Regions from separate parts of the Homo sapiens genome. Here region 1 is linked to region 2. The links come from fine-mapping of genetic effects on gene expression. Tissue or cell type: whole blood. Region 2 holds a variant in brackets; the other region holds the start of a gene. All regions are shown on one strand. Distances are between the middles of the regions.

What was found. PIP is the estimated chance that this variant, and not a neighbour inherited with it, causes the effect.
Region 1: C9orf72 starts here. The variant in region 2 is fine-mapped to the expression of C9orf72 in whole blood (INTERVAL, PIP above 0.99). The same link has a PIP of 0.9 or more in Th1 cells.

The regions. Positions count from the first base shown.
Region 1 is chr9:27,571,979-27,574,478 of GRCh38, forward strand. C9orf72 (C9orf72-SMCR8 complex subunit) reads right to left here and starts at 1,503. Exons shown (of 11, transcript NM_018325.5): 1 at 1,453-1,503. RefSeq lists enhancers at 897-986, 1,585-2,112 and a silencer at 1,497-1,576.
Region 2 is chr9:27,543,414-27,546,177 of GRCh38, forward strand. No RefSeq gene overlaps it. Among named protein-coding and RNA genes, the nearest start is that of MOB3B, 15 kb to the left of the region's middle. The variant G/A (reference allele first, on the strand shown) is at 1,532.

The sequences.
Region 1 (2,500 bases), 28 kb after region 2:
TCTCAGACAATAGGTAGGCTAACCTAGTCCTCCTGGGAACTATCTAATTAACGTAGAATAGAACCCGAGGGCAGACTTGAAAAACAGAAGTCCTCCTTGGTTTACTTTGTTTCTCTGAAAGCAAATTGTGGAGTGCCAACATAGCCAAACAAAATATTTTATCAACTTCATAAGGTGCTTGTAATTTTTTCCTGGAGCAGGTAAATGCTGGCTTAGTGAACAATCTGGAATGTGGTAATTACTCTCGTTCTTGTTTCAGATGTACTATCAGCATGTAGCAGTTTCCAACTGATTCAGGGTTTTCCTAAAGTGGCAGGCCTTGGCAGAGGTGGTGACAACAATGCCCGTGTCAAATGACACCGTATTTCAAGTATTCTGACTCCAGGTTATTAATATCCCCTATATGATAGTCTTGTTTCTGTGATATTCACAGATTATGTTAAAAGTTTCCCAAAGTCTGAGAAAAATCATATCTTAACAGTATCTTTTTTTTTTTTGATCCTTTGTACAAAAGTAGAAGTAATGCCAGACAGATTACGTACCCTTGTTGTGAACAACTGGTGCATGGCAACTGTTTGAATAGAAATTTACCAACTGCCACAACCAGGCAACTACTCTCCCAGAGCCTAACAATCTCGATTGCATCTGAAAGGGCCACCCCTCCTGGGAAAGTGCAGGACCTCCCTCCTGTTTCTGAATACAAAGCCTGGTGGTGTTCAACGCGGCCAGATAGACCCAATGAGCACACGGACATGTAATCTGTGCACTTCTTTAGACAACTGATTACCATCAGTCAAGTGATGCCCAAGTCACAATAGTCACTTCCTTTAAGCAAGTCTGTGTCATCTCGGAGCTGTGAAGCAACCAGGTCATGTCCCACAGAATGGGGAGCACACCGACTTGCATTGCTGCCCTCATATGCAAGTCATCACCACTCTCTAGAAGCTTGGGCTGAAATTGTGCAGGCGTCTCCACACCCCCATCTCATCCCGCATGATCTCCTCGCCGGCAGGGACCGTCTCGGGTTCCTAGCGAACCCCGACTTGGTCCGCAGAAGCCGCGCGCCGCCCACCCTCCGGCCTTCCCCCAGGCGAGGCCTCTCAGTACCCGAGGCTCCCTTTTCTCGAGCCCGCAGCGGCAGCGCTCCCAGCGGGTCCCCGGGAAGGAGACAGCTCGGGTACTGAGGGCGGGAAAGCAAGGAAGAGGCCAGATCCCCATCCCTTGTCCCTGCGCCGCCGCCGCCGCCGCCGCCGCCGGGAAGCCCGGGGCCCGGATGCAGGCAATTCCACCAGTCGCTAGAGGCGAAAGCCCGACACCCAGCTTCGGTCAGAGAAATGAGAGGGAAAGTAAAAATGCGTCGAGCTCTGAGGAGAGCCCCCGCTTCTACCCGCGCCTCTTCCCGGCAGCCGAACCCCAAACAGCCACCCGCCAGGATGCCGCCTCCTCACTCACCCACTCGCCACCGCCTGCGCCTCCGCCGCCGCGGGCGCAGGCACCGCAACCGCAGCCCCGCCCCGGGCCCGCCCCCGGGCCCGCCCCGACCACGCCCCGGCCCCGGCCCCGGCCCCTAGCGCGCGACTCCTGAGTTCCAGAGCTTGCTACAGGCTGCGGTTGTTTCCCTCCTTGTTTTCTTCTGGTTAATCTTTATCAGGTCTTTTCTTGTTCACCCTCAGCGAGTACTGTGAGAGCAAGTAGTGGGGAGAGAGGGTGGGAAAAACAAAAACACACACCTCCTAAACCCACACCTGCTCTTGCTAGACCCCGCCCCCAAAAGAGAAGCAACCGGGCAGCAGGGACGGCTGACACACCAAGCGTCATCTTTTACGTGGGCGGAACTTGTCGCTGTTTGACGCACCTCTCTTTCCTAGCGGGACACCGTAGGTTACGTCTGTCTGTTTTCTATGTGCGATGACGTTTTCTCACGAGGCTAGCGAAATGGGGCGGGGCAACTTGTCCTGTTCTTTTATCTTAAGACCCGCTCTGGAGGAGCGTTGGCGCAATAGCGTGTGCGAACCTTAATAGGGGAGGCTGCTGGATCTGGAGAAAGTGAAGACGATTTCGTGGTTTTGAATGGTTTTGTTTGTGCTTGGTAGGCAGTGGGCGCTCAACACATAATTGGTGGATGAAATTTTGTTTTTACCGTAAGACACTGTTAAGTGCATTCAAAACTCCACTGCAAACCCTGGTAGGGGACAGCTCCGGCACTGCGGGCGGGAATCCCACGGTCCCCTGCAAAGTCATCGCAATTTTGCCTTTACATGTAAGAATTCTCTCAAGCATGATTTTCACACTGGGGAATGTCATTTTTGCTAGTTGCAATATGTGGATGAGTTGTTTTTTTTTAACTTTTGAAAAACGTACCATTCTGTTTGATGTGTAAAAAACACAAAGATTTTTGAAACCTTGCGTCTTTTGGTCTGCAGGTGTATAGATTCCACTTACTACAGATGAGTAGCATTTACACCACTCAGATGTGTAAAAAAACAAAGGTTTTTTAAAC
Region 2 (2,764 bases):
TTTTAGAAGGATCATGCTGTTATCAATGTGAAGAATGGGCTGTAGTGGGGAAACGCCAAAGGCAGATTCTGTTCCACTCTTCATAAAAATCGTACCACAGCACTCTGATACCCTTTTTGCTCTCTAATCCATTTCTCTTTTCCCCCCAACACAGATAATTTAGAAATTATTTAGTCTTTTAAAAGCGCTGGTGTCCAAGTTTTTGAGGTTTTCCCAGATATTTGTTATTGGTTAATAATTTAATTCCATTGTGGTCAGAGAACATATTTTCTATGACTTGAATCCTTTTAAATTTATCAAGATTTGTTTCATGGCTCAAAATACGGTCTATCTTGGTACATGTTTCATGTACTCTTGGAAAGAATGTGTGATTTATTGTTGTTGGGGACTGCTGTGCTCTACAAATGTCATTTAAGTCAAATTGTTTGATAGTCTTGTTCTAATCTTCTATATCCTTACTGATTTTGTGTATTCTTGTTCTACTAAACATTGAAAGGATATTAAAATCTCCAGGCTGCGTGCAGTGGCTCATGCCTGTAATCCCAGCACTTTGGGAGGCCGAGGCAGGCAGATCACGAGGTCAGGAGATCGAGACCATCCTGGCTAACACGGTGAAACCCCGTCTCTACTAAAAATACAAAAAAATTAGCCAGGCGTGGTGGTGGCCGCCTGTAGTCCCAGCTACTGGGGAGGCTGAAGCAGGAGAATGGCGTGAACCTGGGAGGCGGAGCTTGCAGTGAGCTGAGATCCTGCCACTGCACTCCAGCCTGGGCGACAAAAAAAAAAAAAAAAAAAATCTCCAAACATAATTGTGGACTTGTCTACTTCTTACAGTTCTATCAGTTTTTGCTTCATCTATTTTGACACAGCTATGAGGTGAAAAAACATTTAGGACTGTTATATCCTTTTGCTGAACTGACTCTTTTATCATTATAAAATGATCATTTTTACCCCTGGTAATATTCTTTGCTCTGAAATCTATTTTGTTTCATATTGTCACTCCAGTTTTCTTCTAATTACCAATATGATGTATCTTTTCTCCATCCTTTTACTTTTAATCTGTTTGTTCGTCCTTTATTTTTAAGGTGTGTTTCCTGTTGGCAGCATATAGTTGGGTCTTGCTTTTTTATCTGATCTGAAAATCTGATTTTTTAAGGACATTTCTAAAATTGAAAAATAAAAGTTGTATATATTTATAGCATACAATATGATGTTTTGAAATAAGTATACATTGTGAAATGACTACAGTTAATTAATATATACATTACCTCACATATTTATTTGTAGAGAGAACACTTAAAAGATACTGTTAGCAATTTTCAAGTGTACAATATATGTTGTTGGTTATAGTCACATTGTACAATAGATCTCTTGATCTTTAGCTTATTCCTCCTATCTAACTGAATAAGTTGTACAATAGATCTCTTGAACTTATTCCTCCTGTCTAACTTTGACCAACATCTCCCCAGCCCACCGCCTCTCCCCAGCACCTGGTAACCATGTTTTTACTCTCTGCTTCTATGAGTTCCAA[G/A]TTTTTCAATTCTGTGTGTAAGTGAGATCATGTGGTATTAACAATCTCTGACTTTTAATTGGGGTGTTTTGAATGTTTATATTTAAATATCTTTAAAAGATAATTGACTGTATAAGTAAAATTAAAAAACAATAAAGTGTGGAGTTTATAATGTTTGTAGAAATAAAAACGTTAAGACCATAACAGCAAAAAGACAACAACAGTAAGTTTCTTAAGCTATATGTCAAGTAGTATATAAACTGGTTATAAACTGGTAAATTAGAAAGAGGTATAACCCTAAAACAACCACTAAAATAAATCAAAGAGTATAGTTAATAAGACAATAGAAAAGACATAGTAGAATAAAAAAATCCAAAAGTAAGGAGAAAACAAAAAGAACAAATAGAAAACAGCAAGATGACAGCTTTAACCTACCATGCCAATAATCATATTAAATGTTCTAAATGCCCCAATTACAAGCTGGAGATTGTCAGATTGGATGAAAAAGCATTTATGAAGCACTAGTCAGGTACTGAACTAAGGATCGTATAAGGTCTCATTAAATCCTCTGGTGAAGTACGTATTATCACTCCATTTCCAATATTTACAAAATGAACCTTGCATAGGTTAAGTAACTTCTCCAAGCAGCACAGCAGGGATTCACACTCGGGCTCTGAATAGTGCAAGTAGACCTGTAAAACCTGCTTCCTTACTCTCCTTTCAATTCAGCTACACTGAGTACCAGTTACATGGAGTTACTAAGTTAGGAGCTGTGCCCATGGCAATGACTGTAACTGTCTGGGATGAAATCCACCTTTACCAGCTGTGTGACCTTGGGCGGTGTATTACACATCTTTAAGCTTTAGTTTCCTCATTTGTAAAATGGAAGTAATAAAACTAGTCCCATAGTGTTACTGTGTGTTAAATGGAGGTGGTTGACTGTTTTTGTTACTTTAAGCTATACCCTGCAGATCATAGGAGAAATATCAATTTGTGCAATTCTACATCAAAATCAAAATAGTATTATATAAGAGTGATCTGTTTAAACTGTAGCATTATAGAAATATACTATAGAAGGAACTATTTTATATTTACTTTATAGTATTATATGAAGTTTTGGTTTCTTCTTTGAGAATCATAGTAATGTGATCAGTTAGTCTTCTTTTAAAGAAACCTCTCATCCCAACTATTCTATTTTCAAAAAAAAACTTTTTCTTGGAGTGAAAATGTCAAACCTATTCCTAGCTTTGCAGA